Homo sapiens: one gene and its partners. The protein of the gene in region 1 purifies or fractionates together with the protein of each later gene. This does not show direct contact. Each region holds a gene or a part of one and is shown on either strand. Other genes may lie near its edges.

Evidence for each region.
Region 2: the proteins of SCAF8 (region 1) and FOSL2 purify together in Homo sapiens (co-immunoprecipitation; one large-scale study listed by IntAct). This does not show direct contact.
Region 3: the proteins of SCAF8 (region 1) and DHX8 purify together in Homo sapiens (co-immunoprecipitation; one large-scale study listed by IntAct). This does not show direct contact.

The regions. Positions count from the first base shown.
Region 1 is NC_000006.12:154,731,854-154,735,603, forward strand, and holds the start of SCAF8 (SR-related and CTD-associated factor 8), read left to right. Parts: upstream 1-1,562; 5' UTR 1,563-1,569; coding exon of another isoform or gene 1,570-1,697; 5' UTR 1,698-1,941; coding exon of another isoform or gene 1,942-2,047; coding exon 2,048-2,077; intron 2,078-3,750. UniProt on the Homo sapiens protein: Anti-terminator protein required to prevent early mRNA termination during transcription. Together with SCAF4, acts by suppressing the use of early, alternative poly(A) sites, thereby preventing the accumulation of non-functional truncated proteins.
Region 2 is NC_000002.12:28,399,220-28,402,869, forward strand, and holds part of FOSL2 (fos-related antigen 2), read left to right. Parts: intron 1-3,650.
Region 3 is NC_000017.11:43,514,828-43,518,477, forward strand, and holds part of DHX8 (ATP-dependent RNA helicase DHX8), read left to right. Parts: intron 1-2,339; coding exon 2,340-2,495; intron 2,496-3,004; exon of another isoform or gene 3,005-3,235; intron 3,236-3,650.

The DNA of each region.
Region 1 (3,750 bases):
ACCCTGTGTGAAGAGACACAATTGTCCTACCTATGAAAACACTGCTTCTTGTCAAGTAACAGAAAGGCCAGTGTGGCAGGAGGAGAGTCAGGGAGCAAGGGAAGGTGGTGTGAGCTGCGGCAGGCTGGGCTGGGCCTTCAGGCCATGGTGAGAAGTTATGATGGTATCAAATGGGCAATGAGAAAGTATTTAAGGGATTTAAGTAAGGGAGTGACCTGATCTGATTTATCTAAGAAAAACATCCCTCGGCTACTGTCTGGAAATGAACTGTAGGAAGACAAGCAAGGGACCAGTTAGGAGGCTACTGCAAGTGTCAGTAAAAGATCATGGCTAGGCCTGAAGATGGGAGACGGTGGAGAAATCTGTGACAGAATTTGAGATTTTGAAAGTAAATATAAAAGCACTTGGTGAGTTATCCCTGTTACCTTCTCAGTAGCCAGGCCCTATACTAAAGCTGCCAATGAAGTAGAATGAAGGCTCTGAAACCTCAAGAAGGGCCTTACTTTCCCAGTTTCACGGGGCTCTGCGCACAGCTCTTAGGAACTACCTTGATTCCAAAACTCTCCAAAAGTACGATCCTGCCCTTATGTTCCTCTCTCCCTTTGAGTGAATTTGGGAATGATTGTTGAAAAATGACTTTCAACAAGAGGACAGCAGTGTTCGGGGTTCCACGATACATCCCTATCTTTTAACATCGATAAGTATTTTTAAATTGGTACCTTATTTTGCGCTGCACGAGAGAGAAGGCTTTTTACTAGCAGCATCTCCTAATCCATCTAAGAAATACTGTATTTACCTTTACTCCAAGTATCCTAGGGCAAAATTCCTTTAGAACAATTCATCTTCCGAAACAGACGGGTTCCCTTTTCACCTATTCAAGTGTTGTGCATTCTAGGGTCCCCTTCCCGCCTTGCAGACAAATGCGCTCATTGTGCCACTCCAGTCCCTGGATCCTATGCAGCGGGCATTTCCTGCAAGGAGCTGCTGCATGCCTGTTTCCCTCGCCGCCTGCCCCAACCCGAATCCAAGGCTTTGGTTTCTAATGTTCCCTCCCTGTGCAGTTAAAACAATTGAGTTCAGTTACTAAATAGATGACCAGGAACTTTTTCTTGGCGAAGGCTGCGGATGTTTAGGGCACTGTCCAGTAAAGTTGTGAAAAGCAACTAAACCCTGCCGCTTGTGCAAAAGGACCAATCCACCGGGAAACAAGGGAAACGCGCACATTTCCTCAACTTGCCGCTTCTTGGGCACGTTTAGGCTCTTATTAGAGCCGCGCTTTGGAGTTGCCTCCTCCTGCTGTACAAACCCGCCGCGGCGTTCCCCCGGATGCCGCAGCGCTCACTCCCGCGTCCGCGGGGCGCGGGGAGGGGGCGAGGCGCGGGCGGCCCCGGAGCCAAGGCGAGGGCAGCGGAGCCCAGCCGGGCCTACGGGCGGCGACGCTCTGGCCCCAGCGCGCTCGATGGTTTCCGCGCGGCCGCCGGGGCTCGCACGGTCCAGTCGCCAGGGGGCGCGCTAGCCGGCGCCGCGGATCCCCGAACTGCGCGGCCCGACTCGAGTCCGCCATATTGGATGCCGCAGCCGCTGCTGCCAGCGCTTCCTCCTCTGTCTTCGCCGAGCGGGGCTGGTTCCTGCGGCCCGAGCGGCGGGGAGGTGAAACAGGAGCCCGTCGGAGGAAGGGGCAGAAGGGAGTGGAGAGTGTAGGGGAAGGGGCTAGAGGGAGGGGGACCGAAACGGAGCGGGGCAGAGAAGAGAAGGCGCCGCGGCCCAGCCCCTCCCCCGCCCGCCGCCGACCCGCCCCGGCAGCGCCTCTGTTCCCTAGAACGGCGCTCCCCCCGCCCTAGCGGCCATGCCGGTGCCGCTCTGCCGCTGAGGGAGCCCTTCCCCGCCAGCGCGTGCCCTTCCACTCCGCCCCGAGGTCGCAGCGGCCCGCTCTCCCGCCAGCGCCCCCTCCTCGCGGCCACGCAGCAGCCCGCGTCTCGCTCTCCCCACCCAGTGCAGTGGCCGCCGCCTCTTCCGCCGCCGGGCTCGGGGCCTCCGCAGCGACAACATGGAGGCCGTGAAGACCTTCAATAGCGAGGTTGGTATGGCAGCCGGGTTCCCCTGCTCCTGCCCGCACCGCCCCCACCCCTGGTCGAGGCCGGGGCCCGGAGGGTGGGCGCGGGCCTGCGGGTTTTTTAAGGGTGGGGTGAGCGGTGGCCTAGCAGTGCCCGTGGGGGAGGGGTGTTTCTCCTCTGGGTGCCCCTCCCCCGGGTCCGGGAGGAGGGTTGGGGGAGGGCCGCCCTGGGGCGGAGGGAGGTTCTGGCGTCTCCGGCGTCCTATGGAATGGCTGCGAGCTCGGAGGGAAAGACCCGGTTGGGCCCTCACCCGGAGACTCCCGACAGGTCCCTCGAGGTCAGTTCCGCCGAGGCCTGGCCCGCCCACCTCCTTCCTGGGCCTTTGAGGATTTAAGTGGACGCTGGACATGACTCTCCAGACCTTCCCGGGTCCTCACTGAGGCTAACACCGATTGGGGGCGGTGGGGGAAATGAACCTACGGGGTGTTGATCTGTGGTCACGTTACACGTAGTGTTTATAATTGAGGCATTGTTGACTAGGTAATTTGCCAGCTAGGGACTTGAGCTAATTGGATGGTTGGTAGGCAGGCAAAGGTTATTCTGCAATATCTTTTATTTTTACTCGCTCCTCTTCTAATCCATCACGACATAAAGACAAATGGTAGGGAGAGATCTGTGCATCGAGAGATGGAAGATTATGGGGGAAACATTTCTCGCTGGTTCATTCACGTGTCAAACAAGATTTTAAAAAGCAGATTCCATTTTCACTGTGTAGTTGAATTTACTAGTCTGGAAGAAGACAGGTTTTGATGTATTCAATTTCTTTTTAAACTCCGACTTCAATAGGCCTTAATGTAAACATCAAACATAGCAAGTACACATCTGCACAGTCAGCATTAGTATCCCTACCCGTACGCCTTGGAAAGTGTAATTATGGCCGGGAACAGTGGCTCAGGCCTGTAATCCCAGCACTTTGGGAGGCCGAGGCGGGCCAATCACGAGGTCAGGAGTTCAAGACCAGCCTGGCCAACGTGGTGAAACCCTGTCTCTACTAAAAATACAAAAAATTAGCTGGGCGTAGTGGCAGGCACCTGTAATCCCAGCTACTTAGGAGGCTGAGGCAGGAGAATCGCTTGAACCTGGGAAGCGGAGGTTGCAGTGAGCCGAGATCTGCGCCACTGCAATCCAGCCCAGTGACAGAGTGAGACTCTGTCTACAAAAAAAAAAAAAAGAAAAAGAAAAAGTGTAATTATGCTGGTAACTAAATTAGCATAAATTTTATGAACTCTTAAAGTGCCAATACTTTATTCGATACTATGATTGTTAAAGAGTATCTTTAATATTTACCTCTTAAAATACGAGGCTTTTTGCTGTGACGGCCCAAATAGGACAGTACTTTTAAATGCCGTTGCATAGTTTTATCTTGTTTTAATTTCTTTAAAAAGAAAAACAGTATTTGGGAATCTTAGCTAAGAGGCTAAACGGTAGATAATATTTGGGCTATTTTCAATAGCAGTGATACATAACTTTTTTTGGAAAGCATTTTCTTTTTTAATACTACATTTTTTATTTTTAACATTGATAAATTAGAGCAATAGACTTGGGAATCTTCTTTTTTTTTTTTTTTTGAGACAGAGTTTCGCTCTTGTTACCCAGGCTGGAGTGTCACCATCTCAGCTCACTGTAGCCTCCACCT
Region 2 (3,650 bases), on another chromosome or scaffold:
CAAGAACCCCAACCCTGACTTCCATCTCACATACCAGTTCTGCCCACTCACGAGTCTCTGGGATAAGCCCTCGGCCCCATCCGGTCCTGTAGGGGCCCAAACCCTAGTTCCAATACCTGTCAGCAAAAAGCCATGGGTTCATAGCTGAAGCCAAGGCTCCAGTATAGAGTCTCAGGAGGCAGTTTTCCCAAATCAGCAACTGTTGTGGGGGGAACTTCTCTGACCTGCTGAGGTTTGGTGGCCCTAGAGGGTCCGTGTTTTCGGCCGTCTTTCTCATTGGCAGTGGAAGGAGCACACGCATCCTTCCCAAGCAGCCCGGTGGCACCCTAGCAACAGGGTACAGCAGGGTGATGGGAGTTTCCATGCCCAAAGACCACAAGGCTTGTAAGGGTTTGAACGTCGGCTCAGGGTCTGGAGGTTCAAGCTGATAAGTGAGAGCCCGTCTCCTCGGCTACCTGGGTTGGAGGAACATCTCAGTTCTGACTTTTTGCTTTCTTATTTCCTCTGTATTCGTTTCCCTCCAACCTGAGCATGGGAGATGAGAATGAACCTCTGGGACAGGGGTTGGCAAACTATGTCCTGAGTATTTTTCTAAATAAAATACAGTGGCACAGTCCTGCCTATTTGTTTACATGTTATCTAGGGCTGCTTTCGCACTGCAGTGGCAGAATTGAGGTGCAGCCAAGACCGTATAGCCCACCAAGCCTAAAATATTTGCTGTCTGACCCTTCACAGCAAAAGTTTGCTAAACTCTGCTCTAGGAGGTGGATGGGGACCACTATATCCTTTTATAGGCATTCTTGCCCACCCCGCAGTTGACAGGGTGACACAGTGAAATATTTGGAGGCTTTGCCAGGCTGGAATGCTACATAGGCATCCAGCATCTTCAAAGTGTCCTTGAGGAGGACATGTTGGCTACAGAGCCCCAGGCAGCCGAGTGAGGTTTTGGGTTACCTCTCCTGATCCCATCACTCCCAGCACACTCCTGGCATGCATGCAGCAGGTTTGAAACTGCCCTGTAGCCCCCAGCTGAGCAGCTCTATCTTGGTTTGTGTTTAGTGTTAACTCGTCCGTAGAGAACCACGATTTATCTCCAGTGTGACATGTGGCTGATTCTCGGGTCTATTGGCATAGAAGAATGCTAGGCTAACTTCTGGGACCACAAACTCCTAACTTCACCTCTTCTCTCCTACCCCAGTGTCTGAATAACACGTTTCTGAATAACACGTTTCTGAATAACATGCTGGGAGTTGAGACAAGACCCATCTGCCAGATCTAATTGAAACTTTTGTGTGTCTCCAAGAGAAGCTCCTCTTGGAGACAAAAGCCTTCTTTATCAGAGCCCCGGGCCCCTCTGGGGATGGGACATTGTTTTCCTTGCAGTTTAGAGCCAGTGTATTATCCAGATGGCTTTGCCTCCTGTCTGAAACAAGGTGTACATGCGTTTCAGAGGCAGTCATTACCTCCTGGCTGGTTTTTATTGCTGTCTTGTTTTGTCTAGACCAAGCCATTGCTGCGAGGAATCTGGCTGATGTATACCGGGGAGCACACACCACGGACCTGCCCTCCAGAGCGGGTGGACTAGAGGGCCTCAGAGGGGCTAATAGGCATCCACTTATTCTGAAGGGGTCTTTGTCCCTCAGCTTTGCTTCAGATTTTCTGCTGGGTTCCCCAAGCCTAAAACGGGAGCACTTTTATTTGTTGGAATGAGGAGTGACTTTCTTAGGTGCTTTCCTAAAAGGAAAGCTGACAGCTTCCCCATGGAGGAGGGAGTCATATCAAACCATTGTGCTGAATGCCTCAGGTGCATTTCAAACCCAGAACCTGGCTTGGGGAGAGAAATGGAATTTAAAAGTTGGGTGCTTCCCAGGAGTGGGTAGCTGGCACTTCTCCCCAGAGCCTCCTGGGCAGAGTACACAGGCACATCTAATGATGATGGTGGTGGTGATGGTGACCTTCCATTGGTTTGGAGCAATGTTTCTCAACCCTGGCTGCACAACAGACTCTCCTTGGGGGTTTAAAAAAAAAAAAAAAGCTTATCAGAGCCCTGCCCCAAACCAATTATTTTAGAGGTCTAATGGCGAGGCTCTGACATTAGTGTGTTTTTTACAAGCTCCTTGGAATATTCTAATGTGTAGCCAGGGTTGAGAACCACTGGCGTGCTTTTATAGCCTGTGATTACAAGTAGCTACTCATTTAATCCTCATGGCAGTGCAGTGAGTTTGATGAGTATTCCCCTTTACATCCATGGAATTGAGTCCTTGAGCCCAGGGCAAGGCACTCAGTGGCTAAGCCAGGCCTCAACCCCATGCCTCCTGACCCCGAGTGCAGTGTTGACTCCCCGCCCCTCCCATCCAGCAGCTCAGGAAAAAAATAGCTGTCTGGGACTTGGTGCTTCTACACACACTCAGCCATGCCTGCTGTTCTCACGACTCTGCCTACTCACAGCCCAGCCCCAATTGGCCATTTTTCCTCCTTGAAGATCATTTCCCACTTGGATGCTTTCCTGTTCACTGCACTCTTCCCTCCTTCATATGCACACACCTGCTGCTTTTCAGTCAGCGCCTGATAAAAAGCCCACTTTTCTTTGCCTTCAGAAATGCAACTCAGAATCTATCACCCTGGGCAGCTCTCTTCACGGGATCCCAGAATCCATTGTACTGGGTAACTTTCCTCCAGTATCCCAGAACCCATTGCTCTAGGCAGCTCTCCTCCTGAATCTCAGAATGATGCATTGCACCGGATAACTTTTCTCCAGAATGCCAGAAACCATTGTTCTGTGCAACTCTCCTCTTGAATCTCAGAATGCATTGTACTGGGTAACTTTCCTCCAGAATCCCAGAACCCATTGCTCTGTGCAGCTCTCCTCCCGAATCCCAGAATGCATTGTGCTGGGTAACTTTCCTCCAGAATCCCAGAACCCATTGCTCTAGGTGGCTCTCCTCCCGAATCCCAGAATGCATTGCAATGGGTAACTTTCCTCCAGAATCCTAGAACCAATTGCTTTAGGCAGCTCTCCTCCCAAACCCCAGAATCCATTGCACTGGGTAACTTTCCTCCAGAATCCCAGAATCCATTGTGCTGGGCAGCTCTCTTCACTGAAGCCCTTGGCCTGGGCCCCCGAGGTGGTCTGGTTGATGAGGCAGCCGTTCCAACATGCAGACTAGGGTCAGGCAGATAGCAGGGAATTGAGCAAGAAGGGGTCCCCAGCTCTGTCAGCTGTAGTGAGGTACTCTATGTGTTATTTACACAGCAGGAACCCTGATGTTGTGACAAGGCAAAGACAATGGTGGTGCCAGCTTCCATTGCTGCGAATGCTTCTATCCTAGTTGGTCTGATTGGACCAGCATAGGGAGGGTTCTACAGCATCCATGCTAATGATAGTGGGGTTCCATTCGGGGCCAGACAGACCTGTGGTACCTTCTTTGTGAGAGGGGAGGTCTATAGGGGATGACCTGACACTCTGTCTGAGGGCAGTGGGGGTGGATAACCAGCACTTAGGGCTGGATTTTGAGGAAGAAAGCAATGGAAAAGGAGCTTGTATACCACTGTGTTCAGGGGCTCTGGCCTCTTTGTCAGGCTGGACTGGGTTTGAATCCTGACCCCGCTGCTTATTAGCAATGTGGCCTTGAATAAGTTACTTAATCTCA
Region 3 (3,650 bases), on another chromosome or scaffold:
CATTAACATGGTGGTGTGTATCTATATTTAATGACATAAACATGTAACTATAATATTTTCTTTGAAAAAGTGAGCCTACAAAACAGCATGAATGGTATAATCCAATTTTTGTTTAAAAATAGATGGTGAGCATTTCTTCAGAGTATGTGTGAGTGAGCTGTGCCCAAGATTGAAAGCATGTAGTCTAAATGTTAGCCAAGATTATTTATGGGTGGTGCTACTAGATGATGTGCATTTTCTTTTATACTTTTATATGTTGTCTTAATCTTTTACAGTGGGTATGTATTACTTTCATAATTTGTGAAAGCCTTAAGGCTATTTTTATTTTGAAACTTAAGTAATAATAATAGCTAACACTTTTTGTTTTGTTTTGTTTTTTGAGATGGGGCCTTGCTCTGTCGCCCAGTTTGGAGTGCAGTGGTGCAATCTCAGCTCACTGCAACCTCGGCCTCCTGGGTTCAAGTGATTCCTCTGCCTCAGCCTCCCAAGTAGCTGGGACTACAGGCGCATGCCGCCATGACCACCTAATTTTTGTATTTTTGGTAGAGATGGGGTTTCACTGTCTTAGCCAGGATGGTCTCCATCTCCTGACCACATGATCCACCCGCCTCAGCCTTCCAAAGTGCTGGGATTACAGGCATAAGCCACCGCGCCTGGCCCAATAATAGCTAACACTTACAGTGTACTTAACGTCCTAGATACATGCATTGACTTGGTGCATTCTCGCATTGATCCTATGTGGTAGATATTATTTTCACAGATGAGGAACCTGAGGCACAGAGGGGTTAGGTGATTTGCCTAACATCACAGAGCTAGTGGAGCCAAGATTTGAACCTGGGTAGCCTGGCTCCAGCTTGTATGCTCTATACTACTTGTCAGGGTGGCGGTGATCAAAAAATTAGTTACACATGCCTGTCCTGATTTGGAGAGAGACATGTGTAGAATGCTGTAGAGTCCAGCCACTGTGTGTGATTGCTGCCTGGATTTGTGTGGTTAGTTGTCCTTTCATAACCTATCCTTTGGTTTGGAGCTGGCATAGTAATTTGTAAATCCTGGTACTGTTTGTAACAACAGATGGTTTTGTCAGAAAATGGCCCTCTTCAGATTGCTATTCATTGTTTCCTAGCAACCTATGGCTAAACTACATTTTTTTTAATTAAAAAAAAATCAGTGTTTTTGAAGTAGTGTTTTATTATTTTTGAAAAACAGAAGAAAAAAATTTACCCACCATCCTACTACCTCCACTGTTATTATTTTGCTGTTTTTCATTCCAGTCTTTTTTCATGTTTATTTCTTTCATGGTTGCAATTTTAGTAGTCAAGTAAGTATGCAGTTTTGTATATTTTTTTGAGTATTTAATTTTCCTATTAGAATAATACATGTTCAATATTTGGTAAAATCTAAAGAAAATAGACCTCATCTGCAAGCCTACTATCAGAGTTAGCCACTGTTAACATTTTAGGGTTTTTTTCGCCTAGTCATTTCCTTCTAGTAGTTGATATATAAAGACTTTTACTAAAATTATTTTACATTGTTTCGTAACTTGCATTTTGCATTTAATGCGAATGAACATTTTCTTCTGTCATTTAACATTGCAAACATGATTTTTATTTTTATTTTTTATTTTATTTTGAGTCAGGATCAGTCTTTGTTGTTGCCCAGGCTGTAGTGCAGTGGTGTGATTACGGCTTACTGCAGCCAGCCTCGACCTCCCCAGGCTCAGGTGATCGTCCCATCTGAGCCTCCTGAATACTGGGACTACAGGCGTGAGCCACCACACCAAGCTAATTTTTGTATTTTTTGTAGAGATGAAGTTTCAACATATTGCCCTGGCTGATCTCGAACTCCTGGGCTCATGCAATCTGCCCACCTTGGCCTCCCAAAGTGCTGGGATTATAGGCATAAGCCACGACGCTTGGCCTGCAAACATAATTTTTAAAATGACTGCAGAGTCATCATTGGGATGATTGACGTAATATGTTTATTTCACTTACATTTTTGGTCATAACTGTGGGGATGGTGTTCTGTCATCTTGTTTTATGCTTTCTCTTTTATATTGCGCCACACTATTTTGAAGATATATGTCTCAGATCTGTATAATATTTCTTCCATTAACCCTGCTTGTATTGCCTCCCTCGAACAAACTTCCCCGAAGTGCTGAGTATGGAGAGGGGAAGATAAGAGCATTGGTAGTCTTGGAAATGGTCCCAAAGGAAGTGAAATCAACCCCATTTCTGATTTTGCCAGTTGTTAATTGTCCCCCTTTTAACAGATATCCTGGGTAAAGCTGTTAAGCAGTGTTTAACAGATATGTTGCTTTTATATGCCCACCCCTCTAGGCTCAGGCAAAGCAACGAGCTGGCAGAGCTGGGAGAACAGGCCCAGGGAAGTGTTACAGGTTGTACACAGAACGTGCCTACCGAGATGAAATGCTGACCACCAACGTGCCGGAAATCCAGAGAACCAACTTAGCAAGCACAGTGCTGTCACTCAAGGTAGAAATCACTGTCTTGTTAAAATGGGTTGGTGGAACAGTCCAATCCTGGCCTTCATAAATGAATTTCAGTTTTATGAACCTTGTTAAATACTTTAGTAACCTCATGAAAGCAGTCCCTTTGAGTGAAATGCAAATGGCTGTGATAACAGCCTCTCACGGCAGGTCTGGGGCTAAGTTGGCATGTCTGCTGTGAACACACATTTTTTCTTACCATAACAACCAGCAGGATATTAGGTTGTAAAAGGTTCTAGTTAGGAGCATTTTCTAAAAGGAAATTAGAAAAATATAATCAATGCCAAACTGTGGACACACACACCTAACCTCAACCACTTTAGCGCTCAGATCCAATTCTGTTCTTTTAGAACGAGAGAAAACCCCCTGTTCAAAAACTTTGCAAGGGAACTGTCAGTACAGATTTCAGACTGGCTCTCAGGGGCTTGGTTTTCATTCTGAATCATTGTTCTTCCTCTCTCAGTCCCCAGTGAGGACTTCATTCTCTTTTGGCAGGAGGAGCTGTATGAGTAATTTCCCAGCTGATGGCGTTTCCCCCGACACTGATGCTACCCTGGAGCCCTGGTACTTTCTGGTGCAGAGTGCTCTGTTGTCATTTATTATTTATTCCCTGTCAAAGAGGCTAAAACAGAGCTTTGGAAAGAAAAAAGAAACCTACTCCAGTCTCTGAAGTGCCAACAGAGAGGCATCTGTGGCTTGGACTTCAGCTCCAAACTGCGACTTTGGGCAAGTTTATTTACTTTGCCCTCTGCTCTGTGTTCTGCTCTGAAAAAGGGGCTGTTAATAGTATTTGTTGGAAAGATAAGTGAGATAATGTAGGTAAAGGCACTTGGCACAGTGCTTGATGATTGCTAACATAATTCATCATAGTTATTATTCACACAATAAACATTTATTGAACACCTGCTGTGTTTATGGTCACAATCACTTTATGAGAAAGAAATAGAAAGCTTAGGTCCTACCACATCACACTTTATATACACTTGAATCGTGCATCATTCAGTCGTTTCTTTTATTCATCGAATTAGCTAATGTATTGAACACATGCTACATGCCAGGCATGTAGATTGCACTGTGGTGGTTTTGTGAACATAGTTTTTACCCAGTGTGAACTCTCTGAAAGCAGGGGCCATATCCTGGC